Regions from separate parts of the Homo sapiens genome. Here regions 1, 2 and 3 are each linked to region 4. The links come from fine-mapping of genetic effects on gene expression. A gene starts in region 4. Each other region holds a variant in brackets. All regions are shown on one strand. Distances are between the middles of the regions.

Region 1 (5,149 bases), 190 kb after region 4:
TTGCACTAGATGTGATGCTGTTGACAACCTCTCACACGGTATAGTGCTTTAAGGAGTTTCCACATCTGTAAAATGGGATAATAATAGTACCTGCCCTATAGTATAGTTGAGGCTTAACTGAACTAATATGTACACAGTTCAAAGGAGCGCACCTGAGATACAATAGAAGCTCCAGATGCTACATGTTATGGCTTGAAAACTGCTTTTCTTTTCTTTTTTTTTTTTTTTTTTAATTTGAGATGGAGTCTTGTTCTGCTGCCCAAGCTGGAGTGCAGTGGCTTGATCTCGGCTCACTGCAACCTCCGCCTGCTGGGTTCAAGCAATTCTTCTGCCTCAGCCTTCCAAGTAGCTGGGATTACAGGCACCTGCCACCATGCCTGGCTATTTTTTTGTATTTTTAGTAGAGACAGGGTTTCACTATGTTAGCCAGGCTGGTGTCGAACTCCTGTGATCCGCCCACTTCGGCCTCCCAAAGTGCTGAGATTACAGGATGAGCGGTAGAGGGAAGGCTAGATGATGGCTCAGAACCCAGAGGCTGAACCCACCCATCCCCCAGGCAAGAACTTGTCCCTACAGTCGCCACTTTGCCTTGGCCACGCTGTCCCTATGGCCCCTCCATGGAAGCTCTGTGGTCCTGGGCCTCTCTCTAGCCCACAGGACCAGTGAAGGAGCACCCAAGCCTTCCTCCCTCCTCTTTCGCCTTCTGGCTCAGCTCTCCATCCCTGGGGATCCCCTCCCCCATCTGGGAGGGCACAGTGGAAACAGCCTGGGCTGCGGAGCCAGACACACTGGACTCCAGCTCCTGCTCTGAGGCTCATCTGCATCGCTGCACCTCGTCTGTAAAACGGAAGTGACCACATCGCCCTCCTGACCTGTCGTGAGCCTTAGGACCAGCCCCGCTCTTGCTGGCTGTCAAGTTGGGGGTCCATACGTCCCAGCTTGCCCTGGACAGTTACTTTCCCCTGTTGTCCCGGGATCACTATTGCTAGGGCCCCCTTTTATGCCCCAAACTGCCCTGGTTAATTATATGGTTACCCTTCTCTTAGGAGACCCCTGGATTGGGCTACAGGGACTAGGCCCGTGGGAGGACCAGGCTCCTCTCAGCTCCAGCCAGGGTTTATGTCCCATTTTATTTCATTTTATTATTTTTCTGAAAAGCATACAAATTTGTTTAATGTAAGTTTCACATGACATGGAGCCCTCCTAAGGAAATGAAGACCCTCGGGTCCCATTTTACTCACCTAGAGACTGAGGGGAGAAATCTCTCCCAAAGTCATGTCAGATGCAAAGTTTGTCCAAATCCTGGTCTCCTGACTCCCACCTAGGCCTCCACTGTCCTTCCTCCCACACACTCACCACCCATTCAGATGTCCAGACAGGCTGGACAGAATCCTGGGGGCCCAGGACCCAACTGTTCTTCTCTTTTCTTTGAGAAGGGCTCCACCCCTAAGGCCAGCATTAGGACCCCCTCCTTATCACTCCCATTGGGCTGTGGTCCCCAAAGCCTGTCCAGTTCTGTCTCAGTACCCCCTCCCTAACTTGCCCCACACCACAGGCCTGGGAGGAGCAGTGCAGAGCCCAGAACTTAGAGTAAGCCAGAGAGGGCTTGGCCCATTGGGAGGGGTCCTCCCGGGGAGGGAAGGCAGTGGGCTGGCCTCTGTTTCAGGTCAAATGCACCAGCACAGAGGACAGTGGCCTCTGACTCTTAGAAACACCTCAAGTAGAAACTCAGAAATGGCCTATCTCAGCTCTGTCTCTCTGCCCAGGGTCAGAAAGGCTGGTCTGGCTTCCCCCCAGCCTGGGAGGCCCTGGTGTCCTTCCTAGGTGTGGGGCTGCCCTAATGTCCTCAGCTCTGCTCTGGGTGGGGGGTCCCCAGCCACTGCATGGGAGCATCTGTTTAATCATTGCATTCCCCCTCCTGCTGCCTGCACAGGAACAAGCCATCTAAGGAGCTGGTTGAACCAGCCTTCCCACTTGTGCTCAGGGAGACACCTGCCCCAGTGGGCCCCCAGCAGGCCTGGCCACCTCCCCTGCCCTACTCCTGCCCCAGTGCTCAGAGCCAGAGCTAAGGTGTCATTCTGTTTCTGAGCCATACCCTCCCCAGGAGTCCCTTCCCACCCACTCCCTTGAAGGCCTGATGGCTCACTGGGACCCCATTCCCTTGTTTTACAGATCAGGAAACTAAGGCCCAGAGGGGCAAAGGCACTCCCCGGGGACGCACAGCAATCTAGGGGCAGAGCCAAGACTAGCACTCAGGTTTGTGTTTCCTGGAGTTCAGAGGAGGAGGAAGAAAGGTAGAGATGAGAGAAAAAAAAAAAAAAA[CA/A]GAAAGAAAGGAAGAGGAAGAGGATATAGCAAGGGGAGAAAGGAGGCTGGGAGCTGGAGAAGTTATAGAAGTCAACCTCTTGGTAAAGGAAAGCAAGGCCAGCTTACCCCAGGCCCTCCCTGGTGGTGGTGGGTGACATGTTTCCTGTTCCCCAGGCTCAGTGCAGAGGTCTGCCCCCTGGCCCCACCCAGAGTCAAACTCCCCACCAAGCCAGGTCTAACCTCAGGGCCCAAGGGCCAGGGAGCCAGCTCCACGCCCTGCAGACGAGTTACCAAGCAGCCCCAGGGAGGATCACACCTCTCTCCTGACATCTGCCCTCCCAGCTGTGCCCAGGACTCAGGCACCTGCTGGGGCAGCCACTGGCTCTCTCCTCAGGCAAGAAGAGAAGCCAGGCTTGGGAAGCAGGAGTTGGATAGGCCATGTGGACAGTGCCCTGGACCCCTGATTCTGCACCCCTGGCCCAGCCAGAGTGCCCCTGTGTGACCCAGGATGAGTCATTTCCCCGGCAGTTCATGGACAGCCCCAGCAGTAACAGGCAGAGGCCCATCCTGTCCCTCCCCCACAGAGGGGGTCATGAGAACTGAAAACATGGCTAGGCTTGGGAAGTGGCCAACATGGACGTGTCCTTGGGGAGGTGGCAGGAGGAAGGGACAGTCCCAGCCGGGCCACAGGCTGTGCAACCACTCTTCTGTGGACACTAGCTCCTTCATCTGCAAAATGGGGACAGGGATCTTCCTGCACACAGACAAGACGCTCATAAAGAGAATACACAGTGGTGAGAGTAGCTTCCAAAGCTGCAAAGGTGGGGAGGTTAACTTGCAAGGAGCACAAGACAGGCCCCCACTCTGAGCTCTTGTTATCTGGGTTGGGTCTGTGTCTCCCAAGGGCCTACCGGCTCCTCAAGGGCAAGGCCTGGGGCCTGGTCATCTATGTGTTCTCAGAACCCAGCATGACACCATGCATGATGGGTAAACGAGATGCAAACAGAGAAAATGAATGAACTGACAAGAAGGTAAATATCAAGCTCCATGAGGACAGAGACCGGGCCTGTGCACAACAATATCCCTGCACCTAGAAGCACATTTGCCACAGACACAGAGTTGATATTCAACACATTTGTTTGTTTGTTTGTTTGTTTGTTTGTTTTAGAGACAGGGTCTCACTCTGTCACCCAGGCTGGAGTGCAGTGGCACAATCGGGCTCACTGTAGTCTCAACCTCCTGGGCCCAAGTGATCCTCCTACTTCAACCTCCCAAAGTGCTGAGATTACAAGCGTAAGCCACCGTGCCCAGCCCAACACATTTGTTAAATGAATGATTGAGACAGAGAAATAAAGACAAGTTGCTCCATTCTATCCAGGCCATCCCCATCTCCCCAGGGCCCAGCAGAGAGCCAGACTCAGGACGAGTTTCCTGCCTGCACTGGGCCTTACCTTTTTGTAGATGGATGATGTCAGGGAAGTTGGAGAGCAGGCCCTGGTAGAGAGACAGTGTGTCCAGCATCTGGAAGAGGTCATTCTTGGGCTGCTCAGCAAACATCTCCCCGATGGCTTCATAGGTACGGCCCGTGTGAGAAATGGCACTGTTGAGGGCCTCAGAGCAAAAGGGGGGGTCCATCTGGAAGGAATGACTGATGGCCTGGAAGGCACTGCCCAGCTTCTGGAATTCCTTGCGGAAGCCCCCCACATGTTTACGCACCAGCTCTGATGCCACAGTGCTGAGCTGCAGGACGCTGTCGTCCATCTTCTTACTGAAGGCCTTGAAAGTGTCCACGCGATCTTCCACGTCCTGCAAGTCCTGGTGCTCGGTGGGGATCTGGAAGGTGAGCAGGAAGCTGGCACCCACCATCTCATCCTTCTCCGCCCGGCGTTTGCCCATCTTCCACTGCTTGTCATCCAGGCAGCTGAGGAAATGCTGGAAGCCTTCGTACTGGGAGAGCACAGGGTGGCTGGTCATGTGGTCCATCCAGAGGATGAGTCTCCGCTTCCGCTTTTCGATGAAGTCCTCCTCGAAGCGGCCAGTGGCCTGCTTCTCAGGCAGGTGGGGCACCGAGATGACAGTGAACTTGTGTAGCAGGCGGTTATAGAGCCAGTCAAAGTGTTTGTAGCGCCGGTAGACGGGTGAGGCAGCATGGGTGGGTGTGAGCTTGTAGGAGATGTAGCTTTTGATGCCCTTGAATTTGGTCTGTTTTGTGGGGTCCTCCACAGAGCAGGCAAATGGGTGGGGATTGGCCTTCCACTGGGGGCCACGAGGGCCCATTTCAATGGAGTATGTCTCAGCGATCTTGGCCATCATGGGCACATCACCCAGGATGAAGGCCTCCACTCCAGAACGCACAAAGCATGAGAAACGGTTGAGGTTACGGCCCACCACACTGCCTCGCTTGGCAGATGCCAGGCTGTCCTGCCGCTCCAGTGGTGGCTTGGGCCGGAAGGCCATGTGCTGGCTGGGGTAGGCACCAGGGTAGGAGAGGTTGAGGGGAGGGTGCCCGTTGGTGCCCAGCCCACCAGCCCGTGGCTCCTCCACCACTGTGCATCCGTCGTCCCAGTCATCCCAGTCATCATCATCATCCTCCTCAAAGCTACCCTGGTTTGAGAGGAAGCCACTGCCCCCACCACTCCTAGCTGGGCTGGCCACACTGGGGCTGTTGTACAAGCTCACCTGGGCTCCGGGAGAGCCTGCAGGGCTGCTGGAGTAGTCAGCATGGTTGGTGCTGATGCCAGAACGGACGATCTCCACATAAGAGGCAGGAAAGAGCCCTGTCTCCCCACGGCTGTTCTGGCCCTGCAGCCAGCCATCCAGTGAGGTCTCGCTAAAGATGACCAGG
Region 2 (5,149 bases), 140 kb before region 4:
CAGCATATGTGGTCTAATTTTGGGTTCTTACCAATCTGATAGATGAGAAATGGTATCTCACTGTTACTTTTAATTCAATCTTTTGATAGGTGAGGTTGAGCCATATGTGTTTCCTTTTGTGTCAACAGTTTTTCCCTAGTTGTTCTATTAAGTTGTATTCTTATAGTAGCCATCGTAGAAATTGTTTATATAATAAAGATACTATTAAAAGCTATATTATCTTTTTGACTGAGATATGAGTTGCAAACATTCTCTTCTAGTTTGTCACTTGTCTTGTGATTTTTTTCTTGATAAATTTTGGCCATAATTAAGTTTTATTTTTTATTTTTACATACTTAATTTTATCAGTCTTTTATGGGTTTTGGATGTTGACTTATAATTTGATTTTTTATATTCAAGATGTGGAGAATAGAGTTGACAGAGCAGGTCTTAGACTGCTATCCTTAGAAAGGCCTCCTTGCGAAGTTGGCCGTTGCTGGTGTTTAGAAACTTAGTTGGCATACAGTTCTCTATACTTAAATGAAACTTTTCCTAAATGATAAGGATGTCTCCGTATGCCTGAACTGTATAAGCATTGTGGTTTATGCTGAATACCTGCTTTTCTTTTGGGAGTCTGGAATTTTGGTATATGCGAGGCAGAAGATACATATATGAACAGTTTCCATGAAAAATCTTGGACACTAAGTCTCTGATGAGCTTCCCTAGTAGATAACACTTCACTTAAATTGTCACAATTCATTACTAGAGGAATTAGGCTTGTTCTGTGTGACTCCACTAGGAGGGAACTCTTCGAAGCTTGTGCCTCATTTCCTTCAGACTTCATCCCATGTATCTTTTCCCTTTGTAGTTTTTGCTTTGTATCTTTTTGCTGTAATAAATCATTACTGTGGGTAAAACTATGTATTGAGTCCATTGAGTCTTCCTGGGAGTTATAATGGAACTTACCCTTATTTTTTTCCCTTTTGTTTAATTAAAGACTTTTTTGGCCTGGTGCAGTGGCTCATGCCGGTAATCCCAGCATTTTGGGATGCTGAGGCAAGCAGACCACTTGAGGTCAGGAGTTCGAGACCAGCCTGGCTAACATGGTGAAACCTAGTCTCTACTAAAAATACAAAAATTAGCCTGGCATGGTGAGGCGTGCCTGTAGTCACAGCTACATGGGAGGCTGAAGCACAAGAATCACTTGAACCTGGGAGGTGGAAGTTGCAGTGAACTGAGATTGCATCACTGCATTCTAGCCTGGGTGACAGAGCAAAACTCTGTCTCAAGACAAAACAAAACAAAACAAAACAAAAACTGCTTTAAAAAAAATTATTTGCCAATTTTTTAAACAATTTTTTTTATTATACTTTAAGTTCTGGGATACATGTACAGAACATGCAGGTTTGTTACATAGGTATACACGTGCCATGGTGGTTTGCTGCACCCATCAACTCGTCATCTACATTAGGTATTTCTCCTAATGCTATTCCTCCCCTAGCCCCCTGCCTCCCAGTAGGCCCTGGTGTGTGATGTTCCCATGCCTGTGTCCGTGTGTTCTTATTGTTAAACTCCCACTTATGAGTGAGAACATGCGGTGTTTGGTTTTCTGTTCCTGTGTTAGTTTGCTGAGAATGATGGTTTCCAGCTTCATCCATGTCCCTGCAAAGGACATGAACTCATTCTTTTTTATGGTTGTGTAGTGTTCCATGGTGTATATGTGCCACATTTTCTTCATCCAGTCTATCACTGATGGACATTTGGGTTGGTTCTAAGTAAAAAGACCCCTTTTAAAGGGCAGTTTTAGGTTCACAGCAAAATTGAGAGGACGGTACAGAGACTTCCCTGTATATACCCCCTGCCGTGACACATGCAAGGCCTCCCCCGTTATCAACACCACCAACCAGAATGGTACATTCATTACCATTGAGGAACCTGCATCAACACATCATAATCACCAAAGTCCATAGTTCAGGGTTCACCGATGGTGTTGTACATTCTATGGGTCTGTACAAATGTAATGACATGTATCCACCATTATACTATCATACCAGGTATTTTCGCTATCCTAAAAATCCTCTGTGCTCTGCCTGTTCGTCTCTCCCCTGCCATGTATTTTTTCAGGAACTTTTATCATTTTTGTTTTTAGATATTGGGGTAACATTTATATTCATAAATTAACTTAGGATTTAGATGTTTATAAGATTGAATTTATTTCATCTAGAATGTGTTTTAAAGCTTTCTTCCTATAGATATTGGGATAACATTTATATTCATAAATTAATTTAGAATTTATATGTTTATAAAGTTGAATCTATTTAGCCTAGAATATGTTTTAGAATTTCCCTCATATAGGTTTTACATATTTCTTAAATTTATTCTTAGTTATTTCATCATTTTGTTTGTATTGTGACTGGGGCTTTTCCTGCCTATCTTCTAATTATTGTCTGTATATAAGAAAGCTAGTGATTTCTTTATGTTAATTTCCCCTGCTATCTTATTGAGTTATGTTACTATTTGTAGGAGTTTTTTATTTTATTCCTTTGGGTTTTCAAGATGTATAATCATATCATCTATAAATAGCAATAGTTTTACTTATCTCCTTCTAATGGCTGTGCCTTTTATTTCTGTATCTTGTCTAATTGTGGTTAGGACCTTCAGTACAATATTAAATAATAGGGGTAGCAGTGAGTGTTTTTTACTTTTTATTGTTTTTTAACTTTGATGGGAATGTCTTTACTTTTTCCAGGAAATCTGATGCTAATTTTTGGCTGGGATGGATATATTTTATCATGCTAAGGAAGTAACTATATTTCTATTTTATTGAGGGTTTTTATTAGTTTTCAGAT[C/A]TCAATGTCTTTGTTTGTTTCTGTATCTCTGCTGAGACTTACCATTTCTCTGCTAAGACTTTTTATGCATTGTAAATATGTTTTGCTTCATTGAGGATAGTTATATTAGCGGCTTGATTCTTGTCTGTTTGTTCCAATATCTGGTTCGTCTTGGGTTTGGACTCAATTTATTTTCTTTCTCTTGAGAACATTTGATTTTTTGGTTCTTTGTATACTTGGTGATTTTGGATTGTTTCTGGGACATTAGGAGTTTTAGATTATGGATATTCTAAATGCTATTATTTTTCTGATAAGCATGGTTTCCTTTGTTTAGTAAGCAATTTTCTTGGCTGGGCTTCTACTGCAAACATGTTTTCTTATGTAGAAGGTCCAGTCTGTTCAGATGTTTTGTTTTTAGATGGTCTGTTTTAAATTTGTTCTGAGCCTACCTAGTTCAGGTGTCCGTTAGAGATGTGGGGAGACAGCTTGGGCTTGGGGATCCCCTCTTTGGCTCATGCTCACCCAGAATTCTCCTACTCTTTCAGCATTCATGGCTTCATAGCTTCTTTTTTCTAGTTCCTCAGATCAGAAAGAGTTCTTCCATGCAAGGCCCCCATAGCTGCTGTACTCACTAGGTGGCTTAGCCCCAGGCTAAAAGCTGCAGAAGCAGGAATTTACTTGTACTTCCTCCAAACTAGCGTGACCTCCCCTCCAGAATCTGTCTTTATCTCTTCATTCTCCTGGACCTTCAGGTATTTGCTTTTCATATTTTGTCCAAGTCTTTATAGTTTTCTGCAGGGAGCTAGAAGTGGTGGTCATTCTATAGCATCTTAGCTAGTCATACCCAGAAGTGGAACCTCTCATATTCCACTTATTGTTTTAAATCAAGAATGGCCATTGAATTTTATCGAATGCTTTTTTACAGTCTAAGGACATGATCATGTTTTTTTCTCTTTAACTATATCTACATGATGAATTGTATTATTAGTCCTGATTTTGAATCATTCTTGTATTTCTGGAGTATGGCCCACTTACTATTCTTTTATGGTCTGCTGATTCTTATTGTATTTTATTGAGGATTTTTGTGTTGACATTCGTGAGAATGACCTACGGTTTTCTTATTGGTACAATCTTTGTTAGGTTTTGGGATCGACAATATCCTTATTTCATTGAAGGAGTTTGAATATTTTTCTCCTTTTCTAAGTTTTAGAATAGTTTAGCATTAGAATTATCTAATGTTTAAAGTCTGGAAGAATTCTCTATGAAGCTGTCTGGATCTAGGTTTTCTTAGCAATAGTTCCTAAATTTGTTTTATGGAGAATGATCTATTTGAATTTTCTTCTCTGTAAATCAGTCTGTATTAGATTTTCTGTTTCTTTGGGGGTGATTTTTTTTTTGTAAGTTATATTTTTAAGCAAAATTTTCCAATTCATCCAGGTTTTCAAATTTATTGGTAAAGAATTTATCAAAATAGCCTCTTTTCTGATTTTAAAACATATTATCCATTTCTGTGGTTAAATTTCCTCTGGCATATCTTCACTTATATTTTGTAGTTTGGTTATCTATTTTGCATAAAAACAACCCTAAAAATCAGTAGCTTCAAAAACGACCATTTGACAGGTATTTGGGCTGGTCTCACCTAGGCAGTGCCACTCTACATGGTGTCATCTTGGGTCACTCACAGGGCTGCATTCAGCCTTCAATAGCAATTTCCTCATTGTACTTGCAGCTGCTACTAGCAGTTTCCTTACTGCCCCTTAGGCCTCCACCTACTGCTTGGTCCAAAATCCAATGCCACAAATTTTTAAGTTTTTAGTTACACAAACACCTTACTTCTAGGATTATCTGTTTCTGTGTAACATACTACCCCAAAACTCAGTGGCTTAAAATAGCAACCATATTATAATTTACTCAGAATTCTTGGGAATTCAAGCAGGTGATGCTGGGTGGTTGTTCTCCTCTACATGGTATTGGCAAGGGTTACTCAGGAGCTGTGTTCAGCTGGGTATTTGGCAGGATCTGAAACATTTAAAGTAGATTCAGGTCTCTCTCCCCAGAGGATAGTCAGACTTCATACATGGAGACCAAAAGGGAGTATTCCAATAGACGACAGTGGAAGCTGTTGATCTGTTAATGCCTAACTTTAAGAATTATGAAGCATCATCTACCATATTCTCCTTGTCAAAGCAAGTCATAGGGCCACTGAGTTTCAAAGGGAGGGGAAATAGACCCCAGCACTCAGTGAGAGGAGTGACAAAGAATTTGTGGCCATCTGCAATTCACCAAATGTGCTTTCTCTCAAGTTCATTTCATTTCATTTTACTGAGAACCAGCTCTTGGAT
Region 3 (5,149 bases), 57 kb before region 4:
ATAATGCTAAAATCCTCTCCCTAAAGAAAGCTCACTGGCATCTTACGAACATGGATGTATGAAGCAGCATGTTCAGGGACTATGCCTGCTTGTCTGGAACTCCAGTCTGTGCATGCCGTTCATACCTCCCCCGCCCCTCAGCTAACTCTTTAAACTCCCCAGCCTCCCATCCCTCTGGGAGAAGGTGCCTTTAGAGTATGAGCTCCCCTTCTCCATTCTCTGGCTACTGAATGAAACCTGACTGCCTTTCAAAGTGGGCGTTCTTTCTTTGTGGCTGATATAAAGTAGGGAAAGAGGACAGTTTACCAGTGACGGCATCACTACATTTTTGCAAATATTTAATTTGTCTTAATAGAAGACAAATAGATTCTCATATTTGCTTCTGAATTCAATCTGTTGCAAAATCACATCATGTAGCCTCTGGAAAATTCCATTGTACACATGGAAGAATGAGTGAAAATGGCAAATGTTTTAATATTATGAAAATAGTCTTTTAAAACCTCTTGAAATGGTCTCAGGGGTCTCCAGTGTTCCCCAAATAAGGCTTTGAGAACCATTTGTGCAAACTAATCACGATGGTTTCATTCTTTTCACCACCATTGGTTTAGGGGTGGGCACAGGTCCCTGATGTAGCCAAGGAAAGGCAAGAGGCAGTGTGCTTGATGGGATGGTGCTTTTAGAGATTTCCTCACCTCCTAAGGAGACACTAGAAGACAGGGCCATTTATCTACCTCTGGATCAAGTAAGGGGGCTGCACATAACATGCAACCAAAAGATGAAACCAACATAGAAAAATCTCAAGGAAGCAGAGCAAAGCCCAGATGTACAGTACCTGGAGTTGTCCTACCTCTGGACTTCTTGTATGTGAAATAATCTGTCAATTGTGTGCAAGGAGGCCATGGGTATGCTAAGGAAGGAGCAGATTATTTTCACTGGGGGAACTAAGGATAGCCATAAGGAAAAAGTAGCACTTGAATTTATAATGAGAATGGAAGAGGAAAAAGGCGGAGGAAAAGGTGACTATTGTACAGACTATTTCCAGGTTCTTTCACACTTTCACTTTCTCTTGTTAAATCTGCCTGTCTTCCAAGCCTCCCCTCACCACTTCCCTCCTTAAATATCTTATTCCAGAAACTCAATAAAGCCTACAAACACATCAAGCAGAGTTTTCTTATGAGGGAAAAATGAGAAAGTAATCTTTTTTTTGCTTGCCATGATCAGCACAAACAAAATTTTTAAATGGTTCTTTATTCATAAACTTGATGCAAGTTTACAAAATTTACTGTACATTGCCAAATAAATCTGCAATTAAAAATAAAATCCATTAAACAAAGCATGCCAAATGTGCAGCTATCAGTCTGCTTGCCATCAGGATATTAAAGAATTCAACAATGTATTCAAGATTTAGCCTTAGGCTTAAGGAACTTTACTGATTTAAAGAATTCTGCCTTGTCACTTGTTATCTGAGCAACTGGCAATCAGAACTTTATACAAATGTAATCAAGTGAACAAGAATACCAGAAAATCTATTTACTGCTCTCTTAACCAAAATGGAATCAAAAGAAATTAAACACACACAATGTAGAAATGACAAGTCTCTCAGATGTGGTTTACAAAGTTAAAAACTGAATCTCAAAGCTAATGCACAAGAAACACTTTTGAACTTTGTAACTTGTTTGTGCAGAAAAATGTGCTTCTGGATTTGTTAAAAGTGCTTAAGAACTAGAATTTACTTTTAAATCAAACGTGGGTGTATAAAAAAATCTATTACCAACCAAAAAGGACTGATTCAGGTAAGGCAATAAAATGGAGAGTACCTTGATTTGAGTCAGGTTCTATAAAAAAATTAACATATGTAGAGTTTCTATTAATCTTTCAATGTAAAAGCCATTGTTTTGACATGGCAAAAATTACTGTAAGAGTCTCCAAATTAAGTATCTTTTTGTACTTAACTGCACAGCTTTTGCTCAAGGAGTCTTTGTGCCAATCACTTTATAAGTTTATTAGTTTACAAACGATTGCAACATCCCGTTAATAAAATGGAAACGTAAGATGACTTAGTATTTTAAATAACTTGAAGCTCTGTACTGTGGCTCTTGTTCATAAGAAACACTGAACCAACAAGCAGCAGATTCAGCCCAGCCAAGACTCTGATGCCCCAGTGGAAATCACTACTCACAAGCCTTAA[T/C]TGATACAGTTTTACACTGCTTTGCCTAAGAAGTACAATACAACTCAATTAAGAGTATTATCTTCAGGAAACAATTCATATCTTCACATAGTCATTAAAAAGTTTAACAATTTAATGAGTAGGTTTCCTATCACATTTTGGCAATATCATAAAATGGTTTTAGACATGAAAGAGCTATTATGATTTAGAAGGCCTTAAATTTCCTAAACCAATATTGAACATCGATTAAACCTGTATTGGCTGTAAATGGAACAATATATTGCAAATCCTTGTAACCCATGGGCTCAATATAGGAAAGTTACCCTAAAGCCTCAACTTCAGTAGCCTGATGTTGACTTGGCTGCTTTAAAAAGTTCACTTTTCAAGAAAAAGAGATAAGGAGTGGCCAGTATGTGTATTTATCAGGAAAAATACAGTAAAGGCCCCACTGCTCAGTCCAAGATATCTAAAATGAGCAAAATGCAAAGGCTGTAACTTATACTGGATGTCAGATGACAGATTATCCACTAAAATATCTATTAACTAACATCTTCGGTACTGCTGTAATAGGGGCACTCAAAGCTTTTGTCTGCATGTTAGAAAGATTTTCTTTAAAGCAACATTAGTCCAAACATACAACAGTCAACACATTTAGCCATCTTCCTTTGGAGGGGTGTACCAGCCTGAAATAGAATGAAAAAAAAAAAGTTAAAATAATTCTTAAATAAATTAGAAGAACTGGCATGTAATAAGGTTAGCTACAGTCTCTTTTCATAATTTTGGTGTTTAAAATCTACCGTAAAAAATATATATATATATTATATATATATTTTTTGAGACAGAGTTTCACTCTGTTACCTAGGCTGGAGTGCAATGGCGCAAACTCAGCTCACTGCAACCTCCACCTCCCAGATCAAGCAATTCTCCTGCCTCAGCCTCCCAAGTAGCTGGGATTATAGGCATGCGCCACTATGCCCCACTAATTTTTTTTTTTTTTTTTTTTTGGTATTTAGTAGAGACAGGGTTTCACCATGTTGGTCAGGCTGGTCTCCAACTAATGACCTCAGGTGATCCACCCACCTCCACCTCCCCAAAGTGCTGGGATTACAGGTGTGAGCCACTGCACCCAGTCTACTCTAAAAATTAAACTTACACTTGGATTGGGAACACTGCATTTTGCTATTTCACAACAGAAAGTTATTTTCTATGAATAAATTGTACCTGAGTTTTCAACACAAGAGCTCTGTATTAATGGCATCTCTAGCTAAAGATGACTGTGGAATATTAGACTAAAAGAATAAGTTTTATTCCACTTCAGTTCTATACTTGAAAGTAAGCCTCATGGAAAGTACTTATTTCCCCAAACAAAATCCTGGCGATTTAGAATACAAGGAACTTGGACTGTTATCGGAGCCATAACGTCATTTCACAATGACAAGGAAGCCATCGCAGCAGGTGCAATGACTAAATGACTATGCCTAAAATCAGAGTTAGTAGCAGGCCAAACTAGAATCCATCTTGAGCTATTGTACAACATGGTGACTATAGTTAACAATATACTATATTCTTGAAAAATGTTAAGAGTGGATGTAAAGTGTCTCACCATAAAAATGATAACTATGTAAGGTGATGCCTAGGTTAATTAGCTAGATTTAGTCATTCCACAGTTATGTATACTTCAAAACTTTGTACACAGTAAGTATAATATCTATTTTTTTAAAATAACAAAAAAATTTTAAGATTTAAAAAAAAACAAAACCCTAGAAGTCATCTCCCCTGCTTCTGACTCTATTACTCTTTCATCACAGCTAAGCTTACACATACCCACACACTCTCAAATACAGCATTTTCTATAAATATTTTTTGAATGCCAGTTGTAATGGTTAAGAAATAAAAACAAAGATAAGAAGAAATCTGTGTCCCAGGTTCCGCAAAAACCTAAGCTCTCTATAAAAAGGCAAATTAGACTAAGTACTGTTTAGTATGAAACTTTAGAATAGTATGAATATGCCAAGATCTATAAAGTATCAAAGTAGTACACAGGTTTCTTTGGATCTAATTTTGTGTGCTAGAAATTATTATTATGAAAACCTGGCCTTGTCCTCAAATTTTATCGTTTCTCTCTTCTGCTTGAAAATTTTGTTTTGAATACTATTTCCATAAGTAAGCAATCACTGAAAGAGTGACAAGTTTGCTTTGTCATTAAAATAAATGAGCACAAAACACAAATCTTAAGTCACAAACTGACACATTTCTAGCAAAGTAAAGAATACTTTACAGGCATGGTGGCTTGTGCCTACAGTCCAAGCTACTGAGGAGACTGAGGCAGGAGGATCACATCAGCCCAGGAACTTGAGGCTGCAGTCCACTATGATCACGCCTGTAAACAACCACTGCACTCCAGTTATAACAACAAGAACTCCATCTGTAAGGAGTTGCCTTTAACTCAGTTCCTAATATTTCAAGTAAGTAAAGTGAGTCATTCATTAATCTACTAAAAAAAAAAAAAAAGAAATCTTGATTCTGACTCTGAGATACCTAGGCCAAGTGTATAGGATACAAAAATTTTGACTGAAGTACAATGTTAAGGTTTTGTGGTGCAGTGGCTTACACCTGTAATCCCAGTACTTTGGGAGGCCGAGGCGGGCGGATCACAAAGTCAGGAGATCGAGACCATCCTGGCTAACACAGGGAAACCCGGTCTCTACTAAAAATACAAAAAAGGCACCTGTAGTCCCAGCTACTCGGGAGGCTGAGGCAGGAGAATGGCATGAACCTGGGAGGCGGAGCTGGCAGTGAGCTGAGATAGTGCCACTGCACTCCAGCTGGGGTGACAGAGCGAGACTCCGTCTCAAAAAACAAATAAAATAAAATAAAATAAAATAAATAAATAAATAAATAAAGATTTTGTATGCAGCACAAGTTTCTTTCACCATGGTAACAGCATTTTAAGAAACTAAAGCAAAAACAGAAAAATAAAAT
Region 4 (5,149 bases):
TTCTAATCCTGGATGAAAGATACATTCTCCCAACTTACCTGAGTAAACTTAGTAGCTCCCCACAGCCTACAAATTCAGTCTCCTATCATTCAAACCAGCCCTACCTTTTCGTGGCCATGCCCCAACTTCTACCAGAGTAATCACCCTCGAAGCCATTCAGGCCCGTCTCCTTAAAACACCTGCTTCATGACAACTACTACACTTTCTGTTTTCCACTCTTGGAAAATCCTCCCCTTCTCCAGCCTGTATCGTGGGCTTCTCAAGTCTTAGCATAAATTTTCTACTTCTAAGGAAACCACACTTTCTCAAATCTCCGTGTCTTCTTTGGGTGGAGTTTCCTCAGTCTAAAATGCCCTTCCGCCAGCCTTCCAAAATTGTAGTCACCTGTGGAAGCTCATCTCTAACTGTCTCAGCCTCTCATCAAAGCCTTCCCTGAAGCGCACCTCCCCCAAGTCAAAATTAGTTGCTTTGGCTTTCCTGATGATACCACAGGAGCTGTCACCTTATTGAACTCTTCCCCCAAGAAGACTGAGTTCTGAGAGCGAGGACGACTTCACTCAATTCTGCAACACTAGTGCCCAGAACACTCAGACGTATTCATTCAATAAATGAATTATCTCCTCAGTACAGCACTTGTCTTTTTTTTTTTGAAATTAACACACCTTCTGCCCAGATAGTCTGGTAACCATTTTAAGGTCAATTATAACATCAAGGTTTTTGCAAACGCCAGCCACCCTGCAGGCACTTGAGTACCCACTGACTCAACCAAAGGGAGTTAAAAACAAGACTTGGTTTTAGCCATGTTTGAAAAGGAGCCCGAAGCCACCACCTTGACGCCTATTATAACCAAGAGAATATTCTGCAGTTTGGACCAATATCCTACATCAATTTCACGACGAATAGCTTCACGATACACTTTTATGGAGAAACTTAATACTTCAATTCCTTTACCAAGCCTTGGGTTTCTAATGAGATTTCCGCTTAATGAGTGAGTTTTTAAAAGTGTCTTTTCGGCTTTGTGACATACGTGATCTTTCCGGGGAGCAGCCCTGGCGCGTATCTCCTTTCACCTATCCATTTTCGAGGCTTACACACAAGGGAGGGGCCACACGAATACACACTCAACACCACCTGCCGCAACGACGGTACTATGCTCCTTTCCAGAACACAGCAGCGCGCAGCCAGGCCCGGGGGAGAGGGGTCGCTCAAACAGCACCAGAGTCTGCATTCCAACTTTTCCTCCGTCAACGAGTCCATTCTCATTGTCAGTTTCTCCTTAAACGCAAACTTAAAAACAATTGGCTGAACAAGCGGGAAGAAGGAAAATCCGACTGAAAAATGAGGCGTTAAAACTTAAGGGCCGTTCCCCTTGCCGGCCTGGGCTCAAACAACAGCCGGAGCTGCGCCGCCCCGCCCCGCCCCGCCCCGGTCCCGGGAGCAGGCCGGCTGAGGGCGGCCATGGACCCCACAAGGGCTTGGGCCGCCGCGGACTCCCCCCTCGGGGCTAGGAGACGGGGACCGAGATGGGCCAGAAGCCCCCAAGCCAGCCCCTGGCGAGAAGCCGGAAAGACGCGCCCTCCGCCTCCTCCCACCCAAGCCTCGCGCAGTCCCAGCCCGGCCTGGGATGGGCAAGTCGCGGGGGAAAGGGGCGGGCCTGCCCCGCCCGGGGAGCCGGAGCCTCTCCGGGGCAGGCTCCCCTTTGTCCCGGGACTCGAAGCGCCCCCTCTCCGTCCTCGCCCTGCCCCGCGGGGCCGCGGCCGGGCGCCTCACCGTGATGTTGCAGTGGAGCGTGAGTGGCGGCGGCAGCGAGTGCGGGCTGCCCTGCTGCGGCACCAGGAACTGGCAGTGCAGCTCGTCCAGCTTCCAACTGACGATGCGGAATCGCTCGTGGTTCTTGTCGAAGATGGACGCCAGGAACTTCAGCTCGGCCTTGAGCCCTGACACGGACATCTTCCCCTCATCTCCGGCGGGAGGGGCGCGGAAGGGGAGCCGGGCGCGGAAGGGGAGCCGGGCCCGGAGCCGCCGTCACGGCCGCGACCGCCCCGCGGGGCCGGCCTGGGCCGCGCTCTCGCGGCTCCGCCTCGTCGAGCGCTGCTGGAAAATGGCGAGGGGCGCGGAAGCCTCGGCGTGTGGCGGCCTGGGTGGCGCTTCCTTTGTAACCGACTCCAGCGGCAGGAGGCGGCGGCCCCGCGGCTTAAAAGGGCAACAGCGACGCCGCCCCCGCTACCGCCTGGGAAAGGGCTGCCCCCACCCCGCCCCCGTCCCCCTCACCCTGGCGCGCCCTGCGCGCTCCGGTTTCAGCGCGTGCACGAGGCCAGAGCGCGCGCGCCCGGCCGCCCCCTCCTCGCCTTGACCCAGCTCCCTTGTTCCCGACCCATCTGCTCCGTTCTTCGCACCCGCGGACTGGAGGCTCGGGGCCAGCTGGCGCCCGGGCCCCAGAAGTCGGGGAGGAGCCGGAGACCCCCGCGCGCCCCCGCCCCCGGCCTGGAGCCGGACACGTGCGTGGCGGATCGCGCCGGCCACGTCGGCGCCGCTGCAGACTAGCGCCAGCCCCTGGGGGCGGCTCCTCAGCTTGGCGCTCGGCGCGGCACCCGCTAACCTCACTGGGGGGACCTCGTGGGAGACGCGGGTGCGGCTCACCCAGCGTTACCTCCGCTACTTTCACCCTAGTCCGAGCCACCGCTTCGCTAGCCTGGGTTCCTGTGAGGACCTTCTCACCAGCCTGGGTTCCTGTGAGGACCTTCTCACCGGACTCGCTGCTCCCGCCTTTGCTCTCAAACCATCCATTTACCCAAGACGATGGTTTAGCCCCTGGAGGCTGTTGCCTGGAGGTGTCCCATGATTTCATCCCTTCCCTTAGCTACCACCTGTGTTCACTCTGCCGTATATAGTCTCTCTCTCCCCCCTTTCCTTATTTTGCCTTGTTTCCCAAGCTTAAGATAACCCTCCCCACCCACACCCCCATGGAGCTAGGGCTGCCCACTATTTTCACTAAACTCATAGCTCAAATATCATCTCCGGCACCCCCCACCACAACCCATTTCAAATAGTCACCCTGTGTCACATCGTCCTGTGCTAAGTTTTTGTTGGGCACCTGTCACTATCTGATCTTTAACCCATTTATTCCTTGTCTCTGCCCCGTGTTAATGTGTTCAGAGCTGTATCCCCAGGACCTAGAACAAGACCTGTTATATAGTAGAAACCCGATATGATTGAATTGAATGCTCGCTCTTATCTGGAATCCCCACCACTAGCACAATTCCTGGCACATTGTAGGTGCTCAAAAAATGAATAAAGGTCTGGATAGCAGTCCAAAGGAATACATCCCAATTTGGCAGACAATAGTGTGTGCAATCGTAAGTGCAAGAGGCAGGACCAGCTGCATATGCGTCCAACCTATGTAGTTGCACAGTGCTCCCAGCTTAGAAGGGCTTCGAGCTTGGTTTAATATTCTGGTGTCGCCATTTTGAAATTCGTAATTTTTCAGAAAGGGGCTCCGCATTTTCCTTTTCCAGTCTTACCTAGAGTTACCCAACCCTGACACCTGTCTCTTTCTTCCTAATCTACAAGAGATCCCTGGGCTACTGGTCCCCTTAGATGACAAAATACAGAACAACACAGGGACACATTAAGTCTACTGAAAGTTTTTATTTCCATCTACTTCTGAGATTTTGTATCATGTTATAGTCCTTAGCCTTTAAGAAGACAAATAAACTTTTCCAATTTACCTCAGTAAGTTAGTAGCTCCCCACAGCCTACAAATTCAGTCTCTTATCATTCAAACCAGCCCTAACTTTTCCTGGCCATGCCCCAACTTCTACCATCTTCTACCCCAACTTCTATCTAGCCTTTAAGAAGACTAAGATTCTCACAGACCCCTTTGAGAATCTAATAAAAGCTATGATCCATCTTCCCAGGAAAATACTTCTGCATCTAAAATTTTGTACTTATGGGGATTCATGACCCCAGCACTAGAGCTACCACACTATACACTGGGACTGGGAGAAGAAGGGGTTCCAGGCCTGGGTTCTGAGCCAGAAACAACTAGGCTACTGTATTAGCATTATTGCTGGGTTAAGCACAGAAGTGGCTTGCCACTTTATTTTTCCTTCAGTCCCCAGTTTCTTGGGACCCTAACAGGCATGGCATTCCCAGATAAGGATTTGAGACAAAGAGCAACAAACTCTTGAGAAGTTGGTATGACTTCGAGAAACAAAATTCCCTAAACAAGCTATTTAATCTGTCTAAGCTTTATTTTGTTACCTCTAGATTGCTGTGAGAAAATAGAGCTTTTTAAATTGCAAGTGTTTTTACTAGTTGTATCCCAGAAATATATACAAATATTAATTTCACAGTCGCTTTTTGAGCATCCATCTGCTGCATGCCAAGCTGTAAGAGGGCTAGAAAGATACATAGATACAGTCCCTGATTTTAAGAAGCTTAACATTTAGCATCAAAAACAAAATATTGTTTCCTGATGCTTTTGGCTGCAAATAATAGAAAACTGTGATTTAATCTGCCTTGGACAATAAGGAAATAAATTACTTCACATAATAGGAAGTCCAAAGACAGAACAGTCTCCAGGATTGGTTGACCTGAGCTTTCATGTCATCAAAAGTCCAAATTCTTTCCATCTCTTTTGTTGGGTTGAGAGCAAGGTGGCTGTAGCTGTTCTTGCAGTTCACATCCAGACATGAAAATATCCAGAGGCAGAAAGGACATTTTCTTCTATGTTTCCTTCTAACACATGGGAAGCTTTCCAAGAATCTTCCCAGCAGACTTCCCTTAGTGTGTCCTTGGCCAGAAGTGTGTCACATGCCCACCCCTAACCAATCACAGAGAAGTAGATGGGATTACTCTGGATTTCCAACCTGCTGGGATGGAATGGTTGCTGGGGAGTCACCATAGTCTTACACAGACAAGTAAAGACAACATCAGATCATATGTGATATGAGGTTCAAACTACTGAACTACATTTCAGGGGAGGAAGAAACTAATTCCATGAATTATTTGCATGAAAGTAGGGCCATATTCAGAGGATATTCAAGAGCCCATTTGATTGTAGAGTACAGCAAGGGGCCAAGAGAAAGATAAAGTTGAGATATTACTTTTGATCAGATTTTGAGCCCTGAAATACCATGCCACAGAC

Alleles and levels. Positions count from the first base shown, and alleles are read on the strand shown. Sizes are in standard deviations (SD) of each study's normalised expression. Not every link is listed here.
As copies of C replace A in region 2, the expression in monocytes after interferon gamma of the gene that starts at base 2,170 in region 4 goes up (moderate effect, 0.63 SD a copy in Fairfax 2014).

What was found. PIP is the estimated chance that this variant, and not a neighbour inherited with it, causes the effect. A credible set is the group of variants that fine-mapping cannot tell apart.
Region 1: its variant is the best candidate, but not a certain one, in a credible set for the expression of UBE2Q2 in spinal cord (GTEx, PIP 0.79).
Region 2: its variant is the best candidate, but not a certain one, in a credible set for the expression of UBE2Q2 in monocytes after interferon gamma (Fairfax 2014, PIP 0.74).
Region 3: its variant is the best candidate, but not a certain one, in a credible set for the expression of UBE2Q2 in whole blood (TOPMed, PIP 0.89).

What each region holds. Positions count from the first base shown.
Region 1 is chr15:75,649,180-75,654,328 of GRCh38, reverse strand. SNX33 (sorting nexin 33) reads right to left here. Exons shown (of 2, transcript NM_153271.2): 1 at 3,756-5,149. Among named protein-coding and RNA genes, the nearest start is that of SNX33, 3.8 kb to the right of the region's middle. RefSeq lists enhancers at 239-790, 791-1,343, 2,308-3,244. The variant CA/A (reference allele first, on the strand shown) is at 2,323.
Region 2 is chr15:75,980,980-75,986,128 of GRCh38, reverse strand. All of the region lies in intron 3 of NRG4 (neuregulin 4), which reads left to right. Among named protein-coding and RNA genes, the nearest start is that of NRG4, 29 kb to the left of the region's middle. The variant C/A (reference allele first, on the strand shown) is at 2,829.
Region 3 is chr15:75,897,128-75,902,276 of GRCh38, reverse strand. UBE2Q2 (ubiquitin conjugating enzyme E2 Q2) reads right to left here. Exons shown (of 13, transcript NM_173469.4): 13 at 1,199-2,850. The coding sequence ends at 2,819. Among named protein-coding and RNA genes, the nearest start is that of FBXO22, 4.2 kb to the left of the region's middle. The variant T/C (reference allele first, on the strand shown) is at 2,189.
Region 4 is chr15:75,840,468-75,845,616 of GRCh38, reverse strand. It overlaps UBE2Q2 (ubiquitin conjugating enzyme E2 Q2), which reads right to left and starts at 2,170. Exons shown (of 13, transcript NM_173469.4): 1 at 1,771-2,170. The coding sequence starts at 1,950. RefSeq lists silencers at 1,360-1,759, 2,010-2,089, 2,230-2,369, 2,410-2,589 and an enhancer at 1,191-2,088.